7 linked regions of the Homo sapiens genome follow. The protein of the gene in region 4 purifies or fractionates together with the protein of the main gene of each other region. This does not show direct contact. Each region holds a gene or a part of one and is shown on either strand. Other genes may lie near its edges.

What was found.
Region 1: the proteins of CRABP2 (region 4) and CGREF1 purify together in Homo sapiens (co-immunoprecipitation; one large-scale study listed by IntAct). This does not show direct contact.
Region 2: the proteins of CRABP2 (region 4) and HEBP1 fractionate together in Homo sapiens (co-fractionation; one large-scale study listed by BioGRID). This does not show direct contact.
Region 3: the proteins of CRABP2 (region 4) and ISOC1 fractionate together in Homo sapiens (co-fractionation; one large-scale study listed by BioGRID). This does not show direct contact.
Region 5: the proteins of CRABP2 (region 4) and ARL3 fractionate together in Homo sapiens (co-fractionation; one large-scale study listed by BioGRID). This does not show direct contact.
Region 6: the proteins of CRABP2 (region 4) and ASB9 purify together in Homo sapiens (co-immunoprecipitation; one large-scale study listed by IntAct). This does not show direct contact.
Region 7: the proteins of CRABP2 (region 4) and OLFM4 purify together in Homo sapiens (co-immunoprecipitation; one large-scale study listed by IntAct). This does not show direct contact.

Annotation. Positions count from the first base shown.
Region 1 is NC_000002.12:27,112,110-27,116,788, reverse strand, and holds part of CGREF1 (cell growth regulator with EF hand domain protein 1 isoform a precursor), read left to right. Parts: exon of another isoform or gene 1-2,165; intron 2,166-4,679. UniProt on the Homo sapiens protein: Mediates cell-cell adhesion in a calcium-dependent manner. Able to inhibit growth in several cell lines.
Region 2 is NC_000012.12:12,993,233-12,997,911, reverse strand, and holds part of HEBP1 (heme-binding protein 1), read left to right. Parts: intron 1-4,679.
Region 3 is NC_000005.10:129,111,245-129,115,203, forward strand, and holds the end of ISOC1 (isochorismatase domain-containing protein 1), read left to right. Parts: intron 1-1,610; coding exon 1,611-1,757; 3' UTR 1,758-2,784; downstream 2,785-3,959.
Region 4 is NC_000001.11:156,702,784-156,706,969, reverse strand, and holds the start of CRABP2 (cellular retinoic acid-binding protein 2), read left to right. Parts: upstream 1-1,386; 5' UTR 1,387-1,523; coding exon 1,524-1,593; intron 1,594-4,186. UniProt on the Homo sapiens protein: Transports retinoic acid to the nucleus. Regulates the access of retinoic acid to the nuclear retinoic acid receptors.
Region 5 is NC_000010.11:102,686,167-102,690,845, reverse strand, and holds part of ARL3 (ADP-ribosylation factor-like protein 3), read left to right. Parts: intron 1-902; coding exon 903-953; intron 954-4,679. UniProt on the Homo sapiens protein: Small GTP-binding protein which cycles between an inactive GDP-bound and an active GTP-bound form, and the rate of cycling is regulated by guanine nucleotide exchange factors (GEF) and GTPase-activating proteins (GAP).
Region 6 is NC_000023.11:15,249,425-15,254,103, reverse strand, and holds part of ASB9 (ankyrin repeat and SOCS box protein 9), read left to right. Parts: intron 1-1,699; coding exon 1,700-1,850; intron 1,851-3,539; coding exon 3,540-3,674; intron 3,675-4,679. UniProt on the Homo sapiens protein: Substrate-recognition component of a cullin-5-RING E3 ubiquitin-protein ligase complex (ECS complex, also named CRL5 complex), which mediates the ubiquitination and subsequent proteasomal degradation of target proteins.
Region 7 is NC_000013.11:53,048,744-53,053,295, forward strand, and holds the end of OLFM4 (olfactomedin-4 precursor), read left to right. Parts: intron 1-1,225; coding exon 1,226-2,028; 3' UTR 2,029-3,314; downstream 3,315-4,552. UniProt on the Homo sapiens protein: May promote proliferation of pancreatic cancer cells by favoring the transition from the S to G2/M phase. In myeloid leukemic cell lines, inhibits cell growth and induces cell differentiation and apoptosis.

The sequences.
Region 1 (4,679 bases), on a different chromosome or scaffold from region 4:
AAGACCAGCCTGGCCAAGATGCCGAAACCCCATCTCTACTAAAAATACAAAATTAGCAGGTCATGGTGGCACATGCCTGTAATCCCAGCTACTCGGGAGGCTGAGGCAGGAGAATCGCTTGAACTCGGGAGGTGGAGGTTGTGGTGAGCTGAGATCGCGCCATTGCACTCCAGCCTGGGCAGCAGAGTGAGACTCTATCTCAAAAAAAAAAAAATTATACTGAAAGTCCACATCATTTACTTTTTTTTTTCTCTCTCTTTTTTTGAGACAGTCTTGCTCTGTGACCCCAGCTGGAGTGCAATGGCACAATCTTGGCTCATTGCAACCTCTGCCTCCTGGGTTCAAGCAATTCTCGTGTCTCAGCCTCCGAAGTAGCTGGGATTACAGGCACGTGCCACTGTGCCTGGCTAATTTTTATATTTTTAGTAGAGATGGGGTTTCACCATGTTGGCCAGGCTGGTCTCAAACTCCTGACCTCAGGTGATCCTTCCACCTTGGCCTCCTAAAGTGCTGGGATTACAGGTGTAAGCCACCATGCCCGGCCTTTGTTTTTTTTTTTTTTTTTGGTGGCATCTTGCTGTCATCCAGGCTGGAGTGCAGTGGTGTAATTATAGCTCACTGCAGCCTTCAACTCCTGGGCTGAAGTGATCCTCCTGCATCAGCCTCTCAAGTAGCTGGGACCATAGATTTGAGCCACCATGCTGTCTAATTAAAAACAATTTTTGTTTGTTTTTTTTAGAGATGGGGGGGGTCTCATTTTGCTGCCCAGGCTGGTCTCGAACTCCTGGCTTCAAGCAATCCTTTTGCCTTGGCCTGCGAAGTACTGGGATTACAGGCGTGAGCCATTGTACTCAGCCCAATCACTTGCATTTTTGAGGTGGGCTATAACCGAATGCTAAGGTTGTCAGGAGGGCCCAGGACATTCCAGATTGAGGATGGAACAGGTTGGGCAAAAGCACTGAAAAGTGAAAGTGGAAAGTATTTTAGGAGACTCCAATAACTCCTTGGTTTGAAGCAGTGTGCTATCATAATACAGCACTGGAAGATGAGTCAACAGTAACTTGATATCTGATTGTAGAAGGCCTTGAATGCCCAGGTGAAGATTCTGGACTGTAATCGAAATAGGGAGCCACTGAAGGTTCTAGAGCAGTGGAATTCTAGCAAAGGATGATTTATCTGATGTGGGTGTGGAGGGTTCTTTAAGTGGAGAAAATACCAGAGACAGGGATAACACTAAAAGGCTTGTATATTAGTTTGTGCCAGAAGTAATTCATTATTCATTTAATGTTCACTGTAACCCTGTGAGGTAAATATTATCTCCAGTATGTGGATAAGGTAACTGAAGTTTAGTGAGAAAAATTAATTTACCCAAGGTCACAGGGACACTCAGTGGTGGAGCTTGGGTTTAAAAGTAGGTCTGGCTGTTTCCAAAGCTCTGTTTTCTGTCCATTAAACATACTGAAGAGTTAAATATATGAGGGGTACATAGGACCAAGAAGAGGAGAGTGATAGTCATTCACGGGGTAGGACTCAGGACCAGGTGCATAATTTGCAGGGCTCGGTGCAAAAATGATTGAGAGTTTCAAGATAGTGACAACAGAGCATTAGCCTAAGCACAGGGCCCCTCTGAGAGCGGGGAACTTGTGACTTCACAGGACGCACACCCATGAAGCCAGCCCTTACATGGTTGGTTTTCCAATTACTATGGCAGTGTAACAAACCACCTCAAAATGTAATGGCTTAAAAGGATAATGGGCCCAGCATGGTAGCTCATGCCTATAATCCCAGCACTTTGGAAAGCCGAGGCAGGAGGATTGCTTGAGCCTGGGGGTTTCCAATCAGCCTGGGCAACATGTGAGACCCTGTCACACACACACACACACAAAAAGATAACGTTGATGTTGACTTTGCACATGAGTGCAGGCTGTGGAGACAAGCACATTTCTACTGCATTCAGTGTTGGCTGGGGCAGCTCAGAGGCTGGGGGTTAGAATTATCCGGAGCTTGGCTCTCTCCCCTGTCTGGTTGTTGGGCTGGGAAGATTTGAGCTGGAGGCTTCTCAGGCATCTGTTTCTAGGTGGGTTCTCCACACTCTCTCTTCCGTAGGGTGGTTTCGGGGAGACCAGGCTCCTTCCATGGTGGCTCAAGGTTCCAGAGGTGCACATCTGTGTGTCAAGTGAAGGGGAGAACCAGAACCAGGCATAAGCTAGGTCACTTTTATTACTTGGACTTGGAAGTCATGTAAGCACCATTTCAGCAACTCATTAGAAGCCAGTCACTAAGTCCAGATCATATACAAGGGGAGGCGAGTTAGACTCCAAGTTTTGTGGGAAGGAATGTCAAAGAATGTGTAGACAGGTTTTTAAAGCTACCACAGTGGCCTAATGAGTGAGAGGATGAGTGGATCTGAGGGGTGCTTCCCCTTTATGCCTGAACGGCTCCCCCCAGAGTCATCCTTTGGAGTTCACAGACATCCTCCTTTAAAAGGCATCTGAGGGCCGGGTGTGGTGGCTCACACCTATAATCCCAGCACTTTGGGAGGCTGAGGCAGGCGGATCACGAGGTCAAGAGATCGAGACCATCCTGGCCAACATGGTGAAACCCCGTCTCTACTAAAAATACAAAAATTAGCTGGGTGTGGTGGCGTGCACCTGTAGTCCCAGCTACTTGGGAGGCTGAGGCAGGAGAATTGGTTGAACCTGGGAGACGGAGGTTGCAGTGAGCCGAGATCACGCCACTGCACTCCAGCCTGGTGACAGAGCGAGACTCTGTCTCAAAAAAAAAAAAAAAAAAAAAAAGGCACCTGCTAGTATGTAAGAACACGTGAAGGCTGGATGATGAGTTTTGACAGCTCTGAGGGATTTAAATGACTCCAGTGCCTCCTGTCGGCCTGGGTCCTAGCAGTAAACAGATAGGGTGGAGAAAGCAATTTGAGAGGAGCCAGGTGGGAAGGGGGTGTGTGAAGCCACTGTGGGGCCGTGCAGATGAACTCTTGGAAGGAAAAAGGCCTTATTGTAGATCAGGCACTGCACTTTACACATCTTGTCTCATTAATTAAACCCTCACCACAGCCCTGCCAGAGGTGCTCTCGTCAGCCCCGCATTACAGATGGAGAACCTGAAGCACAGAAAAGCCGCACAGCTAGTGGGCTGCGGAGCCCAGATTTGAACACAGGCAGCCTGAGGTCAGGGCCCATACCCCCCAACTTTGGGCCGTACCACCTATTCCATAGCAATTCTGTGTTTTTCTTGCGTTAACATTTGTATCTTTTCCTACTTACATATTTGCAAGCTTTAGGGGGAAAAAGAAAAAGTAATTCGACCTTAAGAGATCAGCTTAGTGATAAGAGAGTGCCTCACATATGGCAGGTGTTCAATAAATATTAAAGAAATGAATATTTATCCTTATTGTACAAACTTATATCTAACTTGCCTTCCCTACGGATGCTTGCCCTCTGGTCTTTGTCATGTGGCAGCTGTTGGTGCTTTCCATGGTATTCTCTGTGGCACCCAGGCCAGGGAGCCAGAACTTCTGGCATTCTCCTGGTCAACTGGCTCTCTCAGCCATTAGGCACCCCTCCTTCCACCTTAGAGACTGGAACCCTCAGCTGACCTCAGCCCCCTTCTTCAAACCAGCAGCACTCTAGATACAAAGAACTGGGAGAGGCAGCCCTCTCTCTGCCCATTCACCCAGACCCTCCTTCAGCTGCTGCTTCCTGACCTCCCAGGCACCCTGTAGGCAGGGCCTTCTCTCTAACCTTCCTGGAAACAAGGCACTCATCTCTGCGGCTCCTGGACCCCATTCAGTACCCATAGGGTTTCTAGGGAGATTTCTGTCTTCTACTTCCTGCTGAGGCCCAGGTGGTGGAACCCCACCCTTCTGGGGACCCGGGAAGCCTCCACACACTAGCGGCAATTCCTTCAGTTCTCTGTCACTTGTCTCCTCGAACGTGATTTGTGGTATATTTCATGACACAGAAGTTTAAACTTTTGATATACTCAAATCTGCTCATTTTTTCCTTTTAAACTTTCTGAGTTGATGTATTATATTTAATGGTTCTATCACATAATATGGTTTGTTCAGCCATTGCCTAAATGTTAGACATTCAGGTTGCTTACATTTGTTTGACTAATATTAATAGCACAGCTATACATATCTTTGTAATTTCTTTTCCATTTATATTCTTTTATGTAATCCCCAAGACGATATTGTTGGGTCAGAGTTTTAGGAAATTAATACACATTTCCAGACTGCTCTCTAAAAACATTTCAGGTTTATAGTTCCAGAAGCAGTAAAGGTTAATACTCACTGATTCAGTTTCCTTAGTGATTGTAAGACTATCAAAGCTTATTTCTTTTTGCATCAGTTTTGCTATTAAGTTTTTCTAGGAAATTGGCCATATCCTCTAAGTTTTCAAATCTCTGCTGTTTCTTTAGTTATGTCCCTATTTTCCTTCTTAATATTGTTTGTGCCTTTTCTATTTGTTCTTTTAGTCTTTGGTTTATTTTTTTCTGAAATGGGGTCTCACTCTGTCACCCAGGCTGGAGTACAGCAGCACAATCACAGCTCACTGCAGTCTCAACCTCCTGGGCTCAAGTCATCCTTCACCTCAGCTTCCCAAGTAGCTAGGACTACAGGCGTGCACCACCACACCCAGCTAATTTTTTAAAATTAATTTT
Region 2 (4,679 bases), on a different chromosome or scaffold from region 4:
TCAAGTAGTTGCCCTACTCAGAACCACAGCCTTTCTCCTAACAGCCCTGATGAAGGTTCCTGTGATTCTAACACTTTAAGAATCCATGTGTTCTTGCTTTTGTCATGGAATGGGGCTCACTTTGTCTTTTTGGATTAATGATGATGGCCCACACAGGCGGAGAGGGGTCTGGGCTGGTTCGTGGCCTGTGCCCTCAGATTCCTTCCTCACCCATTCCCTGCTCTGCTGTCTTCCTGTGGAGTGGAAGCTGACCCATTCGGCCTGTTTCCCAGGCCAGATGTCAGCCGGCGCCCAGCTACGTTTGCTCAGTGGGAGTCTCTACTGGGAGATAAAAAGGGAGAAACCAGAGTATTTCTCCTCCTTCTCCACCCCATCAGATCCATACTACTAGGAGCTTCTCTGTGGCTTTGGCTTCCGCTACACAGGCCACCATGATTCTAGCTTCTACCCAGTAACCTAGGTATCTGAACTTAGGTAACAGGTAATTCTCCCTCTGTGTCTCCTAGGGTGCTTACTAACCTCTAGGTTGCCTCTCTGTCCCCTGCTGGCATCTCAGCCCCTCTGTTATCTGTGCAACCAATCCCTTGCATCGAAGTGCTTCTGCTCTAAATACTCTAGTAGTTTCTGTTTCCTGTTTGACTCTTATTGATACAGTGTCACTTGCCGTTAATTTGGGGCCTCTGGGATAAGGAGAACTCCCTAATAAGCATCTTCTCTCAGTGTTTGATGGGAATATGGGGCCATATGGGATATTGGTACCAGGCTAAAGCAAATCATTTAACCCAAATGAACCTGTTTCTACAGCTATAAAATGAGTATAAAAATATCTTTTCCATCTATTTCCAGAGTTACTATAAGTATTAAATTCTTTAAAACCATGAAAACATTTTGTAAAGTAGTATACATACCCTACAAATATAGTAATAGCATTATATCAGTGCTCATCTCAGCTTCATTCTTTCTAGCTGTGTGGTCACAGGCCAACTTAGCCCCTCTGAAGCTAATTGTGGAAGAAAATAATAGTTCATATATTAATAGATTGTTTTGAAGTTCAAATGAGATAACCAATTATAAAACTGTTCAATGTTAGTACTTGGTTGGAGATGGTAATGGTTAGCTTTACTGTAGTTTTACAGTAAAGTTTGGGTAAATTACTTAACATCCCGTGAGCCCTTGAATTCCTCAACTCTAAGATGAGAATAACAATGCCAATGTGAAATTAATTAATTATGCATAGATACTTGTAAACCTTTTTTTTTTTAAATATACAAACATAAAGGTATTATTTTTGAAGAGAACCTCTCCCTGAAATTATATTTTATCCTGGAAACAGCCTGGGTCAGAAACTATTGTCCACTCTCCTGGGCAAATGATGGCATACCATATTCCCCACATAGCATGGGCTTCAGGCTCACCAGATGTTGGGGACTGATTCCAAGTACTTGGCAGGGAGGCCAGTGCTGCCGCAGACCTTATCAGGTGCCTTCTTAATTGCTCAGGGAGGGAGGAGGGTAGACAGCTCTCTGTGTTGGATTGGGTGGGCCTTTGGATGCTCACAGCAGAACTGATATTAGTAACTGACATCCTTAATCAGATTTGTGTCCGGCCTGTGCACACAGGTTAGGACCTGATAGCCTGGCTTTGAGTCCTGGCTCCACTATTCACCCGCTGCAGTTTGGGCATGTTACTTAACCTCTTGTTCCCCAGTTTCATCTGAAAATGAAGATTAAAGCCCTAACTTCTTCACAGGGTTATTGGAGAAATTGAATGAATGAATCCACGTAAAGCATTTAAAATAACACCAGACAAATAGAAAGTACTCTGTTAGGTTAATTGTTATGATCAGTATTTTCTTGTAATGAGAAAGCAGGTTTCCAACATTAGCATGTATACCCACTACATGAAGTGGCAAGAAAAAAACTGACCTTTCAAAGGACTTACAAATCCCATAGCCAGAGGCATTCTTGTTAAACCTTTGTCTGGGACTTGAACTTGACCAAGGTTCCCACTGAATGTTGAAAATTGGTTTTTGTAGCCACAGGCCAAAATCTCCATCTAGGAACTGATTGGGAGCATAGACTAATGGAGATGGGGTGAAGGAGGGCTACTATTGTGTTCCATGTCACAAGCAAATGCACTAAAGATGTTAAATTTTAAGAATCAAGACTGTATTAACTTAGCTGCCTTATTCTCTACAGCAGTAGAGAATTCTGGTTAAATACATTTAAATAGAGCTCCCTGGAGAACTAGAATAGTTTTACAAATCCATCTCTTAAGCCTGAATTTTCACAGTGGTCCCGTGGTTCAAATGAGTGGTTATGGATACAGATGCTATGAAAACAAGTGATCCCTGCACTAGAACTGGTTTAATACATTGTGGCCCAGCTTTTCTCCAGGAGATCCTATTAGACGAGGTCCTCATCTCTCTGCCCATCTATTATGGCTCTTGTATTCCTTGTCATTAGAGTAAAACTAGGTTTTACTCTGCATATCTCCTTTCTCACAAATATTTGTAGAGTGCCTACAATATGCAAGGCGTGGTACATCTAGGTACAGAGAGATACAGCGGTGAACAAGAGAAACAGTCCTTACCCTGTGGGGCTTGTGGGTGGAGGTGGGAGTTTAACACATCATTTAATTGTAATTACAATAAGTATTGTGTTATGAAGGTACAGCGTGGGTAAGAATATCACAGGGAACCTATTTTAAGTCAGGATCCTCTCTGAGGAAGTAACTTTTAGGTTGGAGCCTGTTAGATGAATAGGGAGACACCAGGCAAAGGCAGGAGGAGAATGCTCCAGGGAGAGGGAGCAGCAGACACAGAGGCCCTGGCGTGGAAATGACCATGGCATCAAAGGAAACAGCAGAAAGCTGCAGAGCAGGTGCTGTGAGTGTGGCTGGCAACGTAGGTAGAAGCTCAGTGGTGCCTGCATCATCAAGGGCAGGTTAAGAACTTGATGAATGAATGCCTTTAGGCAGCAGATTAATTAACACAGTTAGATTGGTGTAGAGTGCCCTATATATGCTCTCTGGACAATCCCAACCTCATTCACAGCTCTAGTCTCCCCTTATGCTAATGACTCCCAAATTTACGCCTCTATGCCAGTCCCCTGCTGAGCTCCAGACCTGTGTGCCCAACTACCCAATGGACAGTTTGCTCATCTGTATCAGGAGGAGATGAACTGATGGACACATGAGACCCCTTCCAGCTCTAGAGTTATCTGACTTTAGGGGTTCCTAGAAAGGAGGGATCACTCAGGAGGAGGAGGTGGTGAAGTTGAGCCAAGCCTTGAAGGATGATAGGTGTATCATGGGGGACTTGGCTCTCCAAGTCAAGCTGGAGTCCCTTCTTGGCAGCCTTTCTTTCCTTGCTGTGGACTTTGTGCCTGGAGAACAGGCCAAGAGCACAGGTTGCTCGTGCCATTTTATAGATCTCTTTTCTGCTGCAGAGACCCTCCATTCAAGACCCAGACATACTTGCAAAATCCTATGTTTAGGTCACAAATGTCAGTTGAACTAATTTAGAGTAGATGAACTGGCTTGCTATCAAATCACCATCACTGGACTAATGGTTACAAAATCCAACTCCCACAACAGCCTCTGAGTTCTTCTGAGATCTGGCCCCTGCCAGAACACCTTTTTTGTGTCCTGCTTGACAGTCTTTGCTCCAGCCACAACTATTTGTAATATTTGTACTCACAGTCATCATACTGTTCTTGACCCCTCCTCGTTTACTCTTATGGTACCCACTACCTGGAATATCCTCCCCAAATGATCAGAGCATTTACTGCATTGTACAATAATTTGTGTAATACTCCTCACCATCCTCCTGATTATCCCTATCATATTAATCTCCAAATCTGTACCACCTGGCAAAGGTTTTCGACAATGTTTATTCCATGAATTAATAAAGTAGTGACTGAACGTCCGGTTGGGTGATCTGTGACCACCTCAAAGTCAGCTTGACCTCCCCAAACATGTTATCACATACACCCATGCCCCATAAACTAACCTAAGTGGTCCTTTCCTGTGTTCCCATACTGCCCTGGCACTCCTTGCCCCCTAAAAATATCATTAGATGATAACATTCTGTTTTCCTGGCATCTTCCCTTATAGCACCTGTAACAATGTTCAGCACATGGTAGATACTCAGTAGTTGTTGGTTAAATGAATAAAAGAAGAAAAAGACCAAAGGAAAGAGCCAGTTAGCTCTTTCTCCAGTGAGATCTTGTTTTTGGTCTTCCCATTTGTAAAAGAAGTAACTGCGTAAAATGACTTCTGATACCTCTATTCTGAATTTGATATGGGCATACAACTGTCCGCCCAAAGTATCTAACACAGTGGCTAAAGAGAGAGGTTACAGACTGGGCAACATTGCAAGACCCCATCTGAAAGAGAGAGAGAGAGAGAGAGAGAGAGAGAGAGGAAAAGAAAAAAAAAAAAAGCAAAGACACTTTGGAAGGCTGACATAGGTGGATCGCATGAGCTCAGAAGTTTGAGACCAGCTTGGGCAACGTGGTGAAACCCTGTCTCTACAAAAGAAGACAGAGAAAACAAAATACAAAAAAAATTAGCTGGGCATGGTGGCACACACCTGTAGTCCCAGCTACTTAGGAGGATGAGGTGGGAGGATCACGTGAGCCCAGGAGGCTGAAGTTACAGTGAGCCAAGATTGTACC
Region 3 (3,959 bases), on a different chromosome or scaffold from region 4:
AACCCCCCCATAAATAGCTGCTGTTTTTGTTTTGTTTTATTTTGTTTTTTTTAAAAAATTGCTGCAAAGTTCTGGTTAGCTGCTCTGCACCCTTTTCTGTACTGGTCATTAAGGTCCAAGCTTGCTTTCTGACAAGTAGGTTATGGCTTATACTCCCTTATACTTCATTACGGATAAAAATAAAGAGTCTGCCAGTGGAAAGGTTCAGTCTGCTGATGTACAGCCATTGAAGGAAGACTGACTTACACTCTGCAAGGATATTTTGGCTATGCAAGGGCTTCCTGGGTTTTTGCCTCTGACTTACCTAGGAATTGTTTCCAACCACTTCCTCTTTCATGCTTTTTACATATATGCTTTTTGTGATAACAGTTTGTGTCTTTTTTTTCCCTGGGATTTCTGATAACACATAAATCCAGAGAATGAATCTGTGCTATAGAATTCTTCTATTTTCCTCCTTTCCTCTCTCTACCCTTTACCCCCGACTTTCTGTTCTTTGCTCTCTTCCTTCCCTTCTTTCCCCTTTGCCTTCTCCTTTCTGTCTCTCTTTTCCTCCTTGAGCTTTCTGTCCTTAGTATTATGATTCCACTGGGGCAGTTTGGCAAGGATATTCTTTGACCTGTCAGTGAAACTTTACACAACCTTGAATTTTACACTCTTGTTTAGTGGTATTAAAATGTTCATGATGGCAGCAGTAGTGGTGGTTCTCTTATCATCCAGGGAGTCTCCTGACACAGAGAGAGCTCTTTTAGCACCAGTCATTTCTAGACAAGGGAACTGTTAATTATAGGAAGGACTCATATGCTATAGGTCAGATGTTTGGGTGCAGTAAAAAGAAATTAAGAACCATCATTTTAATTCTTATAGTAGTTTTAATCCAATTAAACAATTTATATGAAATTTGATAGTAAATTACTAATGTAATGTTCTAGCAGCTACAATTATATCTGTAGTACAGCTAATGGAGCTTTAAAATATTACGCTCCCCTCGATTTTTAAAACATGAAGAGCTACAAAATGCCAGGGGTGCCAGGCATAAGTATTAATATGCATCACGATCTCATGTATTATCAGTTAAACTACAGAGGGGGAAAAGTGGACAGAGGCACCTTTTAAAAAATCTCAGTAGTAGAAATAGAAATAAAAGTTTAATAAATTTAGAAGTCACAAGCAGCCCTCATTTGAGTCAATGAATGAGTAAGACATGAAGCACAAACCTGCCAGGAGTGTTCAGGAAATAGCAGCAACTAAATGTCCAGATGTTCAGTGATGGGCACGTAGTAACAACCATTCCTTTTCTCTCTCTCATCTCATGTTTTACAGTCATTTGCCTTGATGACTTTCCTGTTCTGGGCACATATATGTCATAACTTTGGCTACCTGTTCCCTTTTACTCGTTCTACTCCATTTTACTAATATTAAGAATAATCATATTGACTTTGTGGTATGCCTGGTCTTGAAATCCATCCCCATCACTGAACTTGATGGTATGGCTGGGAACCACGGTTTCAGTAGAGGACACTAATTATTGCATCCCAGCATAGTGTTACTCTTCTGAAATAGTGTTCATTCTCATGCTTATTTCTTGATTTGCCTTTATCTTTTTGTTCAAGCGTCTCGCTCGAACCGGGATCATAGTGACCACGAGTGAGGCTGTTCTGCTTCAGCTGGTAGCTGATAAGGACCATCCAAAATTCAAGGAAATTCAGAATCTAATTAAGGCGAGTGCTCCAGAGTCGGGTCTGCTTTCCAAAGTATAGGACATTTGAAGAACTGGTATGCTACTCACTGGTGAAGGACAGTCAGGTGAAGGACTGTAAGCCCACACAAGCTCTTCTTATCTCTACTAGAATTAAAATGTTAAGTCAAAAACGGCTCCTTTTTTGCGCCTCCTAGTGAAACTTAACCAGCTAGACCATTTGAGTACCAGCATTTAGTTACAAACGTCAAAGGCTTCCGGTGCTGCTTACCTTCCTTTTTTGTTAATGTGCTTTTATTTATTAAAAAAAATTACAATGAAGATGCCTGTTTTGTCTCTACTGTGTACTCTGATCGTATCTTTCCAAAGTGCAGACTCTTGTGAAGTTTTCTTAAATTGTTCACTTTAAAGAAAATGACGTACCAACAATGATTTGGCTTTTATATTACTGTAAGATGTTATAATGTTAATGTGGATGTAGTGCTTTTACTTTACAGATTGATTGGAATAAGATTATTGCATATGAATTTACCCACAGGACTCTGAATCATGTTACCCACTCCCCTCACAATGTTGTCCACTTAGTGAGTTGCATTGATCTATCCGTACCAAATGATGTTGAATAATTACATATCTTTCTTGACTATACTGATTTCTTATTTTGGTCACTATTACTAAATCTCTGTTAATATTCTCTCTTTTAACTGAAAAGGGATGGGATAGAAGGGTTTGCAATGCCATATTATTGGTGGAGGGCTGTTTTAACATCTTTGAAGTATGGCTTGCTGAATATCTTTACCAACATCTTGAATATATATTCTAGTGTCCACAAGATTTAGCAAAAAGATAAAGCTTGGGTGGAATATCATTTTAAAATGTTCATGTTCTGTTCTATATTTTCTTCACCTACTCTCCAAATATTGTAATGCAAAAAGTCTCAGTAATGATTTGGTAGTATTAATTTTGTGGTCATTGTTTCTCTTCGATAAATTTATTTTCATTAAATACTTGTTAGAGGGTTTTGAAATGTTTTTCAAATATGTGAAATGTGAAACTGCTGTCTTTTATATTAAAGTAATTAAAGAAAATGTATTGTGATTGAAATTATTTTGTCCTCCACAAGATGGCTCTATGAGTATTCTTCCAGGGATTCTAATATTTATTTAAGGTAATAAAATCTTGACATTTATAATCTTTCAACTCATGGGAGTTTTCAAAGAAGGAAAATCCTTTGTACGTAGGGGCAGATGGATTTTACTAAAGGGTGAAAGGCCTTCTTCATTAAGAGCAGATTTTTTTTATTTTTCCTATTGGCAGTGGTAACAAATAGCAACCTGGTGTGTTTAAATACTTTTTTCCAACCATTTGTGTGTCAAAAAAGAAGAATCAAAGATTTCTGCACCTTTAAAAAGTTTTTATTAAATTTAACCTAGTGCTTCTCAAACTTTAATATGAATGCAAATTATTTGAGGATCTTGTTAAAATGCTGATGCTGACTCAGTAGGTCTGTTGTGCAGCCTGAGGTGACATTTTGCATTTCCAAGGTGACATTTCGCATTTCCAAAAATTGGGCATTTTCCACCAGTGCTGTTCAGAAAGGACCATATTTGAAATAGCGAGAATTTAACTCCAGACAACTGTTTTCCTCCACTGCACCCAAACCTTTCAGGGCTCAGTGAAATACCAGTACAGTGAAGCCTTTTCACAGGTGAAACTAATTCTGTGACGTCAGCTTCGTTTCCCCTGCCTTCCATAACAAACTATTATACCACAAACAGTGTCGTAAAACAACGGCACAAGTGTATTCTCGCAGTTCTGTAGGTTAGAATTCTGAAATGAGTCTTAGTGGGCTAAGATCAAGGTATCAGCAGGGCCGTGTTCTTTTCCGGAGGCTGTACGGAAGAAACTGTTTCCTTGCTGCTCTGTGCTTCTAGCATTCACCCATGTTTTTTTTTTGTTTTTTTTTTTTTTGGTTTTTTTTTTGGCTTTTTTGACCCCATTTCTACCTCTTCTAAGCCAATGAAGGTGTATCTGTTTTTTCTTATGTCACATCTGTCTGACTCACTCTTCTGTCTTTCTCATTCTGACTTAAGAGCTCATGTGCTTTAAGGTCATCTGATCAGAACCTTATTCCATCTGCAACCTAAGTTTTCTTTTGCTGTGTAACAACATATTCACAGGTTCCAGGGTTTACAACATTAACATCTCTGGTGGCCACTCTGTATAACACAGACACCGCCATGTGATTTAGTATTTTATTTCA
Region 4 (4,186 bases):
AGGAGGGGCCAGGGCAGGGACCCAGGGCTGGGACCAGATGTAGGGTTTTTCTTTCCGCCTCAGAAGGAGCTGGGAGGGAGAGTCTGGGGAGGGTGGGGGATGGGATGCGGCGGGGCCACGTGCATCGGTTCGCTCAGGGCCACCGGGCCGAAGGCCCCCCCGCGTTGGACAGGCCGGGACGGTTCCTTTGGCTCCAATCACTGCATCCCGCCAGGCTTCGCTCCTCTGCGGTTTCCGGCCTCGGGTCCCAGGCCTGTCCCCGAGGCTCCCCGCCTGACCTCCGTTTCTGTTTCTCCGTCTCCCTGCCATCTCCACTGGGGTCTCGCCCACTCCCACTCGGGTCTCTGCAGGAAGCCGTGCCCTCCTCCCACCCTCTTTGATCTCCCGTTTCAAAGCCGCTCTCCAAGGGAGGGGAGGTCGCTCCTTCCGCCCGTTTTACAGCTCAGGATGGTGACACCTGAGACCCTGCTCCGCCTTCTCCCCCGGCACCCATCCTCCCGCCTATCTAGGTGGTGGCGCAGCTCGCCAGGGCTCCGCGCCTCTGTCCCCGCCTCCCTCCCTTCCCCCTACTGAGACCCCCTCGGGGTCTCGGGAGTGAAGCGACAGAGAAAGCGTTTTAATAAAGACCTTGCGTCAAGTGATTGGCTGTGACCTCTGCCCTCCCAGCCTCGCGCCCTGGGCTCCTGCTTAACCCTTCAATGTCCGCCCAGCGCATTAAGGGGAGCGAGTCGCCTGGCGACTACTTCCAGAGTCCCCAGGCATTACGTGAGCCCGAAGCAGGGTGGAGGGGTGGGGGGACCGTGCCGCCCCCGCCCAGCCTCTCCGAGTTGTTCCAGCAGGGGGCGCCGTTGCCTCACTTAGATCCCTAACCCCCGGAACCCCGCAGCTCCCAAGCCCCTCTCTGAGTACGGAGTGGTCCCACTGGATCCAGTTCAGGGTTCAATGGAGCTAGGGCCAGCTACGGCTCAAGATCTGGGGTCCGCCTGCGGGTGGGGTCGCCAGGTGTCCGGCACCAAGGAGTTGAATGCACCGAGTCAGGTTGGGGATGGGTGGGGAACAGGCGAGACGTGAGGAACTCGGGTGGGGGACAGCCATACACGAGCCCTGAGCATCTGCGCCCGCAGCTAGCTCCCCCCGCCTCTGCGGAGAGCGCGATTCAAGTGCTGGCTTTGCGTCCGCTTCCCCATCCACTTACTAGCGCAGGAGAAGGCTATCTCGGTCCCCAGAGAAGCCTGGACCCACACGCGGGCTAGATCCAGAGGTTGGTGGCGGGGGCGCAGGGCCCCCCAGGTGGGGGGGGGCGGAGCGGGAGGCGGGGCCACTTCAATCCTGGGCAGGGGCGGTTCCGTACAGGGTATAAAAGCTGTCCGCGCGGGAGCCCAGGCCAGCTTTGGGGTTGTCCCTGGACTTGTCTTGGTTCCAGAACCTGACGACCCGGCGACGGCGACGTCTCTTTTGACTAAAAGACAGTGTCCAGTGCTCCAGCCTAGGAGTCTACGGGGACCGCCTCCCGCGCCGCCACCATGCCCAACTTCTCTGGCAACTGGAAAATCATCCGATCGGAAAACTTCGAGGAATTGCTCAAAGTGCTGGGTAAGGAAATGTTCGAGGGCCCAGGTGGGGCAAGGGGGGGCTCTGGAGTCCTCGAAGTTGGGGATGAGAAAGACAGCGGGACCACAATCAGGGCGTGAGACACTGGGTGCCTGCATCCCCGAAAAACGTGCCAGGCGTCCGGGTCCCGGGGCTCTGGGCACGACGCCTAAATCCCGCTTTCTCCTGCGGGGGCCCACCGGTGCCAACACTGCGGTGACTCACGGCCTGTGAATCACGTAGAAACCAGAAGCGCGAGGTTGGCCTCTGGGGGAAGGGGAGGCTGGCCTCAGCGGCCGGACTCGGCGGGCCGAGGCACCTGGCTCTCTGCAGTTCAGAAGCTGCGGGCTGGTGGAGCCACGAACCCTGCATCCAGACTGGGAGCCCGGTTCCCTACCCTGCCCAGCCGCTCGGAGACATTCCAATCTCCTTCCCGGTGCCCCCCTCGGTAACCCAATCCCCAGGGCAGGCTCATTACCCCTCGGCGCCCAGCTCTGCCTGCGAGGTGATCTGCTGCCCCAGCGCCCCCTGAGCCCCACTTTCCTCCCCCTCTGCACTTTCCACTCTGCTCTCCCCACCCCCCATCTGTGAGACAAGTATTTTCATACAGCGAGCAGCTCCAGAGTTCTAAAATCGCTAGGGATAATTATCACTTTCTTGGATTTCAACAAATGGTTTCGTGTGAAACCCCAATCCCACATTTCCAAAAATCTAGGTTCCCACCTACCTCCCCCGACCATAGATCGGCTGCAGCCCAATTGGGTGTGTTGGTCAAAGGTGGGGAAAACTAAGTCAATCCAGACTGCCTTTCCCACTTTTCCAGCCCACCTTCTGTGTGCCCTCTGGGCCAACTGGGCTAGACATCTGGGGCAGGGGAGAGTGCCAGGACCTGGTGACTGGGAGAGGACTCTGGGGGAGAGATGGACGTTAGTTAAGGACCCCAGCCACTGGGAGCGTAAGGGCAGGCCTGCTGCCTTCAATTCCTGCACTCAACAGAGAGACGGTAGTTCGGCTGGGTTGGGCGAGAGGGGAGGGAGGGAAGGCACCCCTCTCCCTGGACTATAGGAGTGAGTCTGGATCTAAGACAGGTCTGGAATGCTGCAGAGAGAGCAGGGATCTCCATCAGTCCTTGCCGTTAGTTCTTCCTGCGATCTAACCACAATACTTCTTGGAGTCATATCAGTCTTTCTTGCTCTGTCCTTGCTAAACTTAAAGACAAAAAGAAATTTTCTCTTTGGAAAGCCTAGATGCCACTCCCTCCTCATCTTCTCTGGATTCTGGCCCCTGTCCTCAGTGGATGAGGTGGTGGTCTGGTACACCCCCAGGCCCCAGCTGAAGAGTAAGATTCAAGGCCCCAATCCTGCTGTCTGTCTTCAGTCTGTTTGTCCTCCCTGCAGGGTCTCTCTGAGCCACGTGCCCTCCTCAGGCCCTGCAGGGGGCAGATTAAAAACAGATCCATTAGACAAACACAGTCCTGAGCCAGCTAAGGCCGGCTAAGCTGGGCCCTCAGCTCCACAGGCACCAGGGGCTCGCTGAAAGGATGTCTCCTCTGAACCCAGCCTTGCCTCTGCAGGAACTTCGGTCCTGGCACACCCCTCTTAGCTCTAGTCAAGGGTCCATCTCAATAAGACTTGGGGACCTGTCATTTCTTCCTAGACACAAGAGTTCAGCAGCCAACAATGGGGGTCCTGGGCTCCCCAGGGGCAAGGCTTCCTCTCTCCCTCTCTCTTCTGTTTGCAGTAGGGTAGGTATGCTTTGGCACTGAGGGGAAAGAGGATTTGTTTCTCTAGGAACCCAGGTCTGGAGGAGGTCCAGGGAGTTGGCCAGATCAGGGGCAGGGAAATCCTGCTACCTGGCAGAGGGCCCTTTCACCCCCGCCTAGTGCATCCCTGGCTCTACTCCAGGACAGGGCGGCAGATCAGGCCAGGTGAGGTGGGTGTGTGGAGCTTAGACCTGGAGCCCATCCAGAGAGGCCCCCTGCTCTGCACGTCTTCCTTTCAGAGGGGTGCTGTCTCCTATCTCCCCCACTTCGGTTAATAACTGGGGAGCAGAGAGAAGGGGTCCAATCTGGGCTGGGATATGGAGGTGCACAGAGAGTCTGAATCCACGAGGCTGAATGAGATAGCCGGACCCTGTGAGGGGAGTGGGGGGTCCTGAAGAAGGGGATACATCACACAGAGCGGGGAGGGCAGTCTCCTTTTCTATTCCTTCTTCTCACAGCAGAGGGGGTTCCCTTGAGGGGACAGGGGTATGGGAGTCTTCCAGAAGGGCAGATGAGTACGGTGCCTAATGCAGAGAGCTTTGAGCCCCAGCTTTTTGCTTTCCTTTTTTTTTTTTTTTTTTTTTTTAGTGGTAGGGTCTCACTGTGTTGCCCAATCTAGTCTCAAACTTCTGGGCTTAAGCAGTCCTGCTGCCTCGGCCTCCCAAAGTGCTGGGATTACAGGCATGAGCCATGGCACCTGACCCTTTGCCTTCCTTTTATCAGTAAAAATAATACCAACAATCATAGCTATTGTTTCCTGAAAACTTAAGCATATGCCTGGCACTGTGTGTGCTAAGTCCTAAACACATACCATCCCAATTGGCTTTTTTTTTT
Region 5 (4,679 bases), on a different chromosome or scaffold from region 4:
TTATTCTTAGGGAAGACGACATTGAGAACATCTGACATGAGCTTTATTAATTTGAGGGTTTGTCTAAGAAATAAAACTTGAAGTGTGATGGAAGGGAGGGGATAGGGTATCTTCCATTTCTCTTTAGGCCGAGAAATAATAACAGCCTTTTGACAGATATAAATGTCTTTTCAAGATATATTCATGTTACTACTAATCATTTACTGTATTATTATTAATATCAGCTTTGTGTTTAAACTTAACATAATTTAAACAAAGTAGGCCAGCCACAGTAGCTCATGCTTGTAATCCCAGCACTTTAGGAGGCTGAGGCAGGTGGATCACTTGAGGTCAGGAGTTCGAGACCAGCCTGGCCGACATGGTGAAACGCCGTCTCTACTAAAACTACAAAAAAATTAGCTGGGCATGGTGGCGTGTGCCTGTAGTCCCAGCTGCTGGGGAGGCTGAGGCAGGAGAATGGGGTGAACCCAGAGCCGAAATCATGCCACTGCACTCCAGCCTGGGTGACAGAGCAGAGCAAGACTCTGTCTCAAAAAAAAAAAAAAAAAAAGGAAAATAGTGAAATCTATATTGTAGAGTTGTAATGAGGGTTAATAGAGTAGACCTAGTAATGTTTAGTGACAACATCAAGTGCCCATTAAATGTAGCTATTTTATCCCACTTGGTTTTCCTAAATCCTAGACTTTGGAGCATTGCTGAAGGTATTTTCTGGGCATCCCTATTTAATTAATTTGTGTATTTGTTTGTTTGGCCTTCATAAATGAGATGAGACTCACCAGTCAATTTCTGTATGTTGTGCTAATTGGAATATGCTGATTGGGGATCACCTGCTCCTTTTGCAGAAATTGCCCTGTCTTTTCCATCTCTGCTCACTGAAATAACCTTCTTCTTTTCCTTTATAGATATATGTAATCGACAGTGCAGACAGAAAAAGATTTGAAGAGACGGGTCAGGTAAATAATTCTTTTTTATATCAAAGTTCTTATATATATATATGTATGTACTTTTTTTTTTTTGAGACGGAGTTTTTGCTCTTGTTGCCCAGGCTAGAGTGCAATGGCATGATCTCGGCTCACCCCAACCTCCGCCTCCCAGGTTCAAGCAATTCTCCTGCCTCAGCCTCCCGAGTAGCTGGAATTAGCATGCACCACCACGCCTGGCTAATTTTGTATTTTTAGTAGAGAGAGGGTTTCACCACATTGGTCAGGCTGGTCTTGAACTCCCGACCTCAGGTGATCTTCCCGCCTCAGCCTCACAAGGTGCTGGGATTACAGGCGTGAGCCACCACGCCCAGCCTAGTATATTTTTTAAATACTAATTCTTCTGTTGAGATAGTTCCCAAATAACTGGGTATTCATTAATCAACCTTGTAAATGTGTGAGAGTGAGGGAGGTTTTTGTTTTGTTTTGTTTGTTAACCTTTACAGTTCAAACAAGACAGTTATTCTAGCAAGCAGGCAAAAATACCAGTTGTCTGAAATTAGTTGAGAGTTCTTTAAACAGTTTTTTTTTCCCCCCTCCAAAACGGAGTTTCACTCTTGTCACCCAGGCTGGAGTGCAATGGCACAATTTCAGCTCACTGCAACTTCAACCTCCCAGGTTCAAGTGATTCTCCTGCCTCAGCCTCCCAAGTAGCTGGGATTACAGGCGTGCGCCACCACGCCCGGCTAATTTTTTTGTATTTTTAGTAGAGACAGGGTTTCACCATGTTGACCAGGCTGGTCTTGAACTCTTGACCTCAGATGATCCACCCACCTCAGCCTCCCAAAGTGCTGGGATTACAGGCGTGAGCCTCCATGCCCAGCCTAAACAGTTTTCTAATTAAAGCTTTTTAGCTTTAATCAAATTGAATATATGAGATACAGACAAGTGGAACTTAGCACCATGCCCAAAGGCTCTTCAGGTTTTTTCCCAGGCCATGTGAAAACGAACCCAGAGGAACAAGTCACTTCTCATTTTTATTTACATTTTTCAATACCTACTTAATTGATTCAGGGGTAACTTTGACAAATCTGAAAGGACAGGAAAAAATGCACATGCCAAGGGCTGGGTGCGGTGGCTCGCGCCTGTAATCCCAGCCCTTTGGGAGGCTGAGGTGGGCAGATCACTTGCAGTCAGGAGATCAAGACCATCCTGGCTAACACAGTGAAACCCTGTCTCTACTAAAAACACAAAAAATTAGCCAGGTGTGGTGGCACGTGCCTGTACAGTCCCAGCTACTCTGGAGGCTGAGGCAGGAGAATCACTTGAACCCACTGCAGAGGTTGCACTGAGCCGAGATTGTGTCACTGCACTCCAGCCTGGGTGACAGAGTGAGACTCCCTCTCAAAAAAAAAAAAAAAAAAAAGTTTTTTAAAAAGTTATCATTGCAGAGTCCTTGGCCTGTGTCCTAAATGACCACAGGTGGCCTTCCAAAGGTAGCAGTTCTCATGTTTATGTCCCTTTTTTTGAAATTGAGTTGAGAACTCTCCAGACTTCTGGAAACAACCCACCACCCTTCCATACCCTGATGATTTCTGGATTATCACTCATGTGAAATGAGCTTGGAGGTGGAGGGGGTCCTATGTAGTCATCTGCCTCTTGATCCATACAGTTCTCTTTGAAAGCCCATGTGTTTTAAGTAGCTAAAATGTGGATTTAATGAGGAAAAGGTGGGGCCTATCATTTAAGTACATATACACCCTTTCCTATAGTTTTTGTAAACAAAATCACATATAGTTTAGACCCCAACCTATAACCTAAATATCAGGGACCTTGCCAGATGGACCAATAAAGTTATTTTAGGATGTAGGTTTGATGAAATGTGAAGCATGTGCATGCATGTTTTAGAGATAGAGATTGATGAAACAGAATTATCTCTAAAGTAATTGTCATTTTCAGTTTAAATTTCATACACACACACACATACACACACACACACGCATTGAAAGTTATTTGCAGGTAATAACCTTGGGTAAGTTTTGAATCTCAAACCACTTCTTGTCTTCTCCCTTGAATGATTTTCTCAAAAGTGTTCTATGGGCCAGGTGTGATGGCTCATCGCTATAATTCTAGCACTTTGTTAGGCTGAGGCAGGAGGATCCCTTGAGCCCAGGAGTTCAAGACCAGCGTGGGCAATATATCAAAACCCTGTCTCTACAAAAAAAAATTTTTTTTTTCCAGGCAGAATCTCACTCTGTCACCCTGGCTGGAGTGCAGTGGCATGATCTTAGCTCACTGCAACCTTTGCCTCCTGGGTTCAAGCAATTCTCCTGTCTCAGCCTCCCAAGTAGTTGGGACTACATGTGCCCACCACCATGCACAGCTAATTTTTGTATTTTTAATAGAGACAGGGTTTCACCATATTGGTCAGACTGGTCTCGAACTCCGCCCACCTCAGCCTCCCAAAATGCTGGGATTACATGGGTGAGCCACCGCGCCTGGCCAAAAAAAATTTTTTTTTAATTAGCTGGGCATGGTGGCAATCACCTGAGGTCCCAGCTAGCTGATCAGGAGGCTAAGTTAAGCATTGCTTGAGCCCAGGAGGTTGAGCCTGCAGTAAGCTGTGATCGCACCACTGCACTCCAGCCTGGATGACAGAGTGAGATATTGTCTCAAAAAAAAAAAGTGATCTGTGAATCATCTGTAGCGGAATCACTTCAGGAGTTTGCTAAAAATGTGGATTCCTATGCCGGGCGCGGTGGCTCACGCCTGTAATCCCAGCACTTTGGGAGGCCAAGGTGGGGGGTGGATCACAAGGTCAGGAGTTCAAGACTAGCCTGGCCAAGATGGTGAAACCCCGTCTCTACTAAAAATACAAAAAAAATTAGCGAGGCATGGTGGTGGGCGCCTGTAATCCCAGCCACTTGGGAGGCTGAGGCAGAGAATTGCTTGAACCCGGGAGGCGGAGGTTGCAGTGAGCCGAGATCGCGCCACTGCACTCCAGCCTGGGCAACAGAGCAAGACTCGTCTCAAAAAAAAAAAAAAAAAAAAAAAAAAAAGTAAATTCCTGAGCCCTAGCTCAGACTTTCCAAAGTCAGCATCTCTGGGTTGGGCCCAGGAATCTGCCAGGGGAATCTTATACAGGTTCAAGTTTGATAATCAGACTGAGCACGGCGGCTCACACCGTAATCCCAGCACTTTGGGAGGCCAAGGCGGGCAGATCACTTGAGGCCAGGAGTTCAAGACCAGCCTGACCAACATGGTGAAAACCCATCTCTACTAAAAATACAGAAATTAGCTGGGCATGGTAGTGTGCACCTGCAGTCCCAGCTACTCAGGAGGCTGAGGGGTGAGAATTGCTTGAACCTGGGAGGTGAAAGGTTGCAGTGAGCCGGGATTGCGCCACTGCACTCCAGCCTGGGCGACAGAGCGAGACCCTGTCTCAAAAAAAAAAAAAAAGAAAGAAAAAAAAAAGTTTGAGAATCACTACTCTTGAAAGTTGCTAGTTGATCAGCTTAACTGTTATTTTTTTTTCTGATTAGAACTGCATGGTTGTCCGGGCATGGTAGCTCACGCCTGTAATCCCAGCACTTTGGGAGGCCGAGGTGGGTGGATCACCTGAGGTGTGCAGTTCTAGACCAGCCTGCCCAACGTGGCAAAACCCTGTCTCTACTAAAAATACAAAAATTAGCTGAGTGTGGTGGTGCATGCCTGTAGTCCCAGCTACTCAGGAGGTTGAGGCAGGAGAATCACTTGAAC
Region 6 (4,679 bases), on a different chromosome or scaffold from region 4:
TCAGTAAAGAGCCAGAGGTGAGTGCACTGCCAGATTTATATTTGGGTTAAGAAAACATTCAAAACTTGGAAACAGGGAACGTGTCAAGGTGAAGCAAGAGACACCTAGGGTACAAACTTGAAAGAAGTGCTCGCTCTCAGGGTCCTGCACTATTTGTGTGACTCCAAAAATGAATATGTCCTTAAATTTTTTACCCTGGGCAACTTTTATGTCTCACTCTGGTCCTGGCCCTGCTTGGAAGTAGAGTTTGAGAAGGAATTCGTTGTCTTCACAATATCATTGCTTAAAAGATTCACCAGATAATCATTTAATGATATACAAGAATGTGTCTGCACTTGGCTTTTCTATTCACTATTTAATTATAGCCCAAACACTGTGAAGTTAGACATTAACTTCGAAATTTCTGTCTGATTTCCAACATTAGAAAAGATAGCCTCAAAGATTATACTTTTATGGCCCTATAGGACATTAACCAGTTTTTATGTTTTTATTTTTTTAATTTTTGAGATGGAGTCTCGCTCTGTCGCCCAGGCTGGAGTACAGTGGCACGAACTCAGCTCCCTGCAACCTCCGCCTCCTGGGTTCGAGTGATACTCCTGCCTCAGCCTCCTGAGTAGCTGGGATTATAGGCACGCACCACCACACTTGGCTCATTTTTGTATTTTTAGTAGAGATGGGGTTTCATCATGTTATCATGTTGCCCAGGTTGGTCTCGAACTTCCGACCTCAGGTGACCCGCCCACCTTGGTCTCCCAAAGTGCTGGGATTACAGGTGTGAGCCACCGTGCCCGGCGGAGTTTTGTATCTATTAGCAAATATATTTCAGCAGTCCATTGACTATATACGTTTTTCTTTTTTCTTTCTTTTTTTGAGACAGAGTCTCACTCTGTCGCCCAGGCTGGAGTGCAGTGGCGTGATCTCGGTTCACTGCAACCTCTGCCTCCCGGGTTCAAGTAATTCTCCTGCCTCAGCCTCCCGAGTAGCTGGGACTACAGGCGCATGCTACCATGCTGGGCTAATTTTTTGTATCTTAGTAGAGACCGGGTTTCACCATGTTGCCCAGGCTGGTCTCGAACTCCTGAGCTCAGGCAATCCGCCTGCCTCGGCCTCCCAAAGTGCTGGGATTATAGGCGTGAGCCACTGCGCCTGGCCAAATGTTTTTTTGAGCCAGCCTTACCATCTTACTGGTTCCCTCATTAATGAGTGAGTTGAATAAAATCTTGGGTATGTGTTAATTCTATATTTGTATGAAAGTCAAGTTTTTTAAAGTTTTCTAAATTATACTTTAAGAATATACTAAATTACACAGCTAATAATTTCAACAATTTCCTCACAGCAGCAAGAGTAATCTTCTTGCACCCGTTAAGAAATTGAATTGGTGTGGGATGGGTCTAGGAAAGAAGTTTAAAATAGGGATTAGTTTGTAAGCGATTGAAATTATCCTAACTAGTTTCAAAGTTCATGTTCCTGGGGAGGGCATGGAGGAGATAGAACATTGAGTAACATTTTCGATGCTTTATAGCCACTCCCTAATTCCATTTTTCACAAAAACCTGTGGAATTTCGTAGTTATTTCTCCATTTTATAGCTGAGGAATTTAAGGCTCAGAGATGTTAAATAACATCTTCAGAGTGGTGGACCCCACATTTGAACCCAAAACATCCCCCTTCCTGTCTTCATTCTGGAGCTTCTTTTACCAGGTGAATGGTGTGACAGCAGACTGGCACACTCCACTGTTTAATGCTTGTGTCAGCGGCAGCTGGGATTGTGTGAATTTGCTTCTGCAGCACGGAGCCAGCGTTCAACCTGAGAGTGATCTGGCATCCCCCATCCATGAAGCTGCTAGGAGAGGTAAATCTGTTGAGAATTTTTTTTTCTACCCACTCCTTCAAGGGACATCTTACTGCTGAAAGAAAGAAAGAAAAGGAGATATATTTTAGAGCAGTAGTTCTCAAAATGGAGTCCCAGGACTGGAAGCATCAGCATGACCTGGCCTGCAAATGCAGATTCTTCGGCCTCACTCCAGCCCCATTGAATCAGTAACTGGGGATGGGGCTCAGCCCTCTGTATTTTGTTTAATAAGCCCTCCAGCTGCTTTCTGGTACACAGTAAGTTTGAGTGCCTCCCTTTTAGAGCATTTTGAATGTTTTTCACTGCTGTATTACTGAAACAGGGCTTGGCACATAGTAGACTATCCATCAATATTTGTGGAATCCGTTGTTATACCCGTGACCTTATAGAAATCAAGTTATTTCATAAAACAAATTATATTCTTCTATTTCAGGGCCTTAAAGAACATTGTCTCAGTGACACTTAAGTTTGCCAAATGAAATAAGCTTTCAATTTTTGAAAGTATTTGATGTTGCATACAGTTTGGGATAATTCTTTTCATTAAAGCCATAATTTTTCTGATAGTCTTAGCTCATAAAATCACAAGTTTTTATTTTCTCCAATATTTAGCATCATCGTAATGACCATACCTTGCCAGAGGGCTTTCTGTTTCTCCAGTGGCTTTCATAGAATGGCTTCCCATTTGACTGGACCAACCCACTCATAATGATCTCCCAAAGCATTAATATTATTTATTGAGAACATCTTAACTCATCATATTCGCTGCATACATAGAACTAAAATACAGCAAGAGAAACGTAGAGGAGCAATGTCAAAAATATGACATCCTGGACCAAGGAAGTGTGATTCAGCTTTCACCTAGTTTTTCAGATTGGGCCCTGCTCATGTTGGATTTGGCAGTTTCTTCTAAGCATTGCCTATACCCGCTGTGGCCTGTTCCTCCCGGGCCTGCCTTTGGAGAGGTTGTAAGTTTCCTTCCCTGTCCCGTGGCCCACACTGTGCCCTTTATTCTTCAGTTCCACCTTCAGGTCCTGTTCCTCCATATCTCTCCCAAGCTCTCACTTCAATTTCTGTACTTAGACAAACTACAAAGCCACAGACAATTGAAAAAGGTGGATAGTTGCTGGTTGGTTACCGTGGCTAGTAAACTCAAATGGAGTTTCACCCGTAGTTGCAGATTGCATCCTATGGTCAAACCATTAACTGATAGCAGTGGTTAAAATCACTCCTGATTTGGCCGGGCCTGGTCTCACGCCTGTAATCCCAGCATTTTGGGAGGCTGAGGCGGGCGGACCACGAGGTCAGGAGATTGAGACCATCCTGGCTAACACGGTGAAACCCCATCTCTACTAAAAATACAAAAAAGTTAGCAGGGTGTGGTGGCGGGCGCCTGTAGTACCAGCTACTCGGAGGCTGAGGCAGGAGAATGGCGTGAACCCAGGAGGCGGAGCTTGCAGTAAGCCGAGATTGCGCCACTGCACTCCAGCCTGGGGGACAGAGCGAGACTCCGTTTCTAAAATAAAATAAAATGAAATAAAATAAAATCACTCCTGATTCTAATTGAAGGAAATAGCTTTTTGGTCCCCTGGATAAGCTGCTGCCAAATTTAATGCAAAATGGGGATGGCAATGTCTTTCTAGCTAAGGGAACTTGTATTGTAACTGTTTTTCTTCCTGCTTTGGGCTGCAGGCCACGTGGAGTGTGTCAACTCTCTTATAGCTTATGGGGGCAACATTGACCATAAGATCAGCCACCTGGGCACTCCACTCTATTTGGCTTGTGAAAACCAACAGAGAGCCTGTGTCAAGAAGCTTCTGGAGTCAGGTAAAGCAAAAAGCAAACCAAAACAAGAAAAGAAAACGAAAAGTAAATTAAATGTATTTTAAACATCTTACTGCTGTAGGAGAGAAATTAGTGTGGGCAATGGAGTTGGACAAGGTCAGGGTTCATATTGACTGTGTTCCCTTGGGGAATTATTTCACACTGTTTGAACTGTAGTTCTCTCATTTGTAACAAGGATGAGGAGGAGGAGGAGGAGGAGGAGGATGATGATGATGATGATGCCTCTTCTCAGGGTGGTCCTCAATGATTATTAGTTTCTCCTCCCTTTCCTCTGTCTCCCTCCATTTGGCCAGTCACATTATTAAGCCCTGCATAACTTGCAAAGCTGTTGGATTAGTGTTGAATCTTCCTATTTGGGACCTTAACCAGTTCTCTTTGATTAGATATTGAACTTGCCCCATTGCAAATATTATATTTTCCTTGAAAAGGCCTATGTACCCTTATTTCTTTTCACCTCCCTGCTGTTGTCCAGCCCCCTTCTCAACACCTGGAACACCATTTCATCACCTCTTTAATTATCTGAGTCCTATTTATTCTTTAAGGCTTCAGTAATCTGTTTCCCAATGAATGTTGTTGCAGTCCTTATTGCCTCCTACTCATCTGGCAGGCATTGCTATGAATTAAGAGATGCAATCTCTGTCTCTCCCCCACTGCCCACCCCACCTCTGCCACTCTGGGCAGATTTTAAGCCTCTAGCCTGGAAAGGGCCATGTTTGATATCCCTCACAAAGTCAGGAACAATACAAGACCAGATCAGTTAACATTTGTTGAGTGGACATAGATTTTCATTTTACCAGAGGGATGGCAGCTCAGGCAAAGCCACATGTTCCCACATGTCACAGTGAAAGCTAGGCTCTGGGCTGGGGTGGGGATTTGTTAAGAGTGTAAGAGTGGAATTGGGTGGGGACAGTCCTAGAAATCCACCTTACTCCTGAAAGGGAGAACTTTGCCACCTTCCCTGTGATCTTGGGATTGGCCAGTCCAATC
Region 7 (4,552 bases), on a different chromosome or scaffold from region 4:
TCCAACAATTCAGGTTCTGCTCCTTTCCTGTCTCACCTGCTCTGCTCTGAGCAGCAGGACGAGGGAAAATGACCTCAAATATACTTGAAGTTGGGTTTTCTTTGTTATCCAATAAACCATCTCATGAGTTTTTTTGAGTGTTAAGATCCCAGAAAATGTGTGTTCAACTCTTTGGATAGTTATTATAAAAATACTGGAGGAACTTTATTTTATTTTTATAGCTCATAAACTCCTGGGATGGCAGGCATTTCAGCGGGAGTACAATGTGAAGGGTTGATCGCCCAGACTGAGTTATTTACCCAAGTGTTACAGGGAATGTAGATTCAGTGGACCAGTGAATCTTGTCCCACTTGATTGTACACATTGTGACAATGACAGTGTCTGGATGGAAAGATGAAATACTTGCATGTCATTCTATGGCACAATAGCATATGGGTTATGAACAGCAGGACTCACCATGTAACTCTGCAGCAGGACGGTCAGCAAGTGATTTATTGATGGGCTGTGCATTGGGTACGGAGCAGGCAATGTTGCCCCAAAATAACTTTATGGCTTCTCAAGGGTGAAATCCCACCATTATAGGACCATCTTTCTGGATCTATAAAATGCTATATTTAAAACATCCTCTTCTGAGAATAGCTTAAAGCAGGATTGGTACCTGGCGTGGATGTGCAATTGGGGGTCCCAAGGAAGGGGAGAGTGAGGAAGGGCATGAAGCCTTGCCTGGGAAAATCTTCTCCCTCATCACTATTCTTTCTGGGATAGATTTCTATAAATCTTGTGGATTTATAGAAATAGGGTAGGATTGTGGAATAATCTTGCTTCCTTGATTTTGCTATAAGAAAAACAAAATAAGATAATATTTGCAAAATGCTTTCTGATAGAAGGAAATATATTAAATTCACCAAGTCTCCCTTTCCTCTCTCTGGGCCTCCAAACTTTTTAAATATAGTTCTTGCTGGTTTCATTATTCCTATTTTCCAGATTGAAAGCCCACCCATGGAAACAGAATGTAGTTCTCTGTAGAGCTGACATTGGGTTTGCATTGAGACTGAATGCACTGAACTAAGAGGAGGTTTGGCTCTTCTCCATCAGAACCACTGTTGTTATTGAACCTTGACAGGAAAAATATTTATAGATTCCTTTGGTGCTTAGGATATTAAACTATTTGTATCCTGTCATTCCTTTTCTCTAAAAATGCCTTTTTATTTTCTTGTTTGTATAGGGAGCTGTGGTCATGGTGGTGTGGTGAACATCAGCAAACCGTCTGTGGTTCAGCTCAACTGGAGAGGGTTTTCTTATCTATATGGTGCTTGGGGTAGGGATTACTCTCCCCAGCATCCAAACAAAGGACTGTATTGGGTGGCGCCATTGAATACAGATGGGAGACTGTTGGAGTATTATAGACTGTACAACACACTGGATGATTTGCTATTGTATATAAATGCTCGAGAGTTGCGGATCACCTATGGCCAAGGTAGTGGTACAGCAGTTTACAACAACAACATGTACGTCAACATGTACAACACCGGGAATATTGCCAGAGTTAACCTGACCACCAACACGATTGCTGTGACTCAAACTCTCCCTAATGCTGCCTATAATAACCGCTTTTCATATGCTAATGTTGCTTGGCAAGATATTGACTTTGCTGTGGATGAGAATGGATTGTGGGTTATTTATTCAACTGAAGCCAGCACTGGTAACATGGTGATTAGTAAACTCAATGACACCACACTTCAGGTGCTAAACACTTGGTATACCAAGCAGTATAAACCATCTGCTTCTAACGCCTTCATGGTATGTGGGGTTCTGTATGCCACCCGTACTATGAACACCAGAACAGAAGAGATTTTTTACTATTATGACACAAACACAGGGAAAGAGGGCAAACTAGACATTGTAATGCATAAGATGCAGGAAAAAGTGCAGAGCATTAACTATAACCCTTTTGACCAGAAACTTTATGTCTATAACGATGGTTACCTTCTGAATTATGATCTTTCTGTCTTGCAGAAGCCCCAGTAAGCTGTTTAGGAGTTAGGGTGAAAGAGAAAATGTTTGTTGAAAAAATAGTCTTCTCCACTTACTTAGATATCTGCAGGGGTGTCTAAAAGTGTGTTCATTTTGCAGCAATGTTTAGGTGCATAGTTCTACCACACTAGAGATCTAGGACATTTGTCTTGATTTGGTGAGTTCTCTTGGGAATCATCTGCCTCTTCAGGCGCATTTTGCAATAAAGTCTGTCTAGGGTGGGATTGTCAGAGGTCTAGGGGCACTGTGGGCCTAGTGAAGCCTACTGTGAGGAGGCTTCACTAGAAGCCTTAAATTAGGAATTAAGGAACTTAAAACTCAGTATGGCGTCTAGGGATTCTTTGTACAGGAAATATTGCCCAATGACTAGTCCTCATCCATGTAGCACCACTAATTCTTCCATGCCTGGAAGAAACCTGGGGACTTAGTTAGGTAGATTAATATCTGGAGCTCCTCGAGGGACCAAATCTCCAACTTTTTTTTCCCCTCACTAGCACCTGGAATGATGCTTTGTATGTGGCAGATAAGTAAATTTGGCATGCTTATATATTCTACATCTGTAAAGTGCTGAGTTTTATGGAGAGAGGCCTTTTTATGCATTAAATTGTACATGGCAAATAAATCCCAGAAGGATCTGTAGATGAGGCACCTGCTTTTTCTTTTCTCTCATTGTCCACCTTACTAAAAGTCAGTAGAATCTTCTACCTCATAACTTCCTTCCAAAGGCAGCTCAGAAGATTAGAACCAGACTTACTAACCAATTCCACCCCCCACCAACCCCCTTCTACTGCCTACTTTAAAAAAATTAATAGTTTTCTATGGAACTGATCTAAGATTAGAAAAATTAATTTTCTTTAATTTCATTATGAACTTTTATTTACATGACTCTAAGACTATAAGAAAATCTGATGGCAGTGACAAAGTGCTAGCATTTATTGTTATCTAATAAAGACCTTGGAGCATATGTGCAACTTATGAGTGTATCAGTTGTTGCATGTAATTTTTGCCTTTGTTTAAGCCTGGAACTTGTAAGAAAATGAAAATTTAATTTTTTTTTCTAGGACGAGCTATAGAAAAGCTATTGAGAGTATCTAGTTAATCAGTGCAGTAGTTGGAAACCTTGCTGGTGTATGTGATGTGCTTCTGTGCTTTTGAATGACTTTATCATCTAGTCTTTGTCTATTTTTCCTTTGATGTTCAAGTCCTAGTCTATAGGATTGGCAGTTTAAATGCTTTACTCCCCCTTTTAAAATAAATGATTAAAATGTGCTTTGAAAAAAGTCATCTTTTGTTTTATTTAATTTTAATTTTTTTTTAAAGCTCTTAACAGGGTAGTCCATATCTTGCTATGAGGTTGGGAGAATGGCTACCTCCCAAACACTAGTGCGGGGAGATTGCACACCTAACAACAGATCACATCAATAACTTTTATAAGAGCCCAGAGTTAGGCTGGCTCTTTCATTTTTCTTTCCCTTTAAAATCCACTCTTTCTGGCAGCTTTTATTGTACATGACTGCCCTATTATCTTTTGGGATATGACCTTATGTACTTATTAATTTGCATGACTGATCTGATTATTTCCAATGCTAGACTACATTTATGTAGCTTATGTTCCTTTTCCAATTGAGCTATGAACATGGATCAGAAGCCTCTGGATCTTCCCCAGACAGGAGGACTTGGGCAGAAAGCAAAAGGACTAACTGGCTATACCAGGAAGAGAAGTACCTTTACCAAAGAGAATATGTAAGAAGACAGGTGACCTAGAGCTGGAAGGACACAGTGGACTGATGTAGTTAGTCTTACTGAAATGCTCATTTTGGATCCTTGCCAAACTTTTTGAGACAGATGGCAGCTATAATATTTAGTATTTTAGTAAGATTTTTCCCTATCTCTTCAGGGCTGAGTGTAGAGACAGGTATGCCCTTCAAAATGCAACAAGATATGAAGATAAAGACATGTATGTCATGTGAGATACAAGTTAAAAACCAGGATGTTATATTTAATCTGGCTCTAGGCAGTTTTCCAGATCAATGTTTTGTACCAAGTACACAGTATGACCTCTGAAGATTCAGGAAAGGAGGCAGGAAGCCAAGGTAACCCTAGCAATCAGCTTCTTATTTGAACTGCTACAGAAGCATTTGCCTGAAAAAATTCACTTCCCAGCCTCTTTCTCACTGGACGTGGTGTATCAGCCTGCAGTGGCTGCCTGCAGGAAATCTCCCTGCAGGGAAGGTTGAAGGACTCAGGGATTCAGGCTCCTGGGTTTACCGCAGTGCAGTTACACAATGGGAAATTTAGCTCCAGATTCATCAGCTACTGCCTGTTTTGAAATTTACATATATATATTATAAACATAAATTACATAAGGTATAATTCACATGTGGTAAAACTTGCCAGTTTTAAGTGCACAATTCAATGAGTTTTGACAAGTGTATAGTCATGTAAAGGCTACCACAATTAGGACATAAAACACTTCCATCCTCCCTGAAATGTTCTCTTGTGTTTTTTTTATAGACAA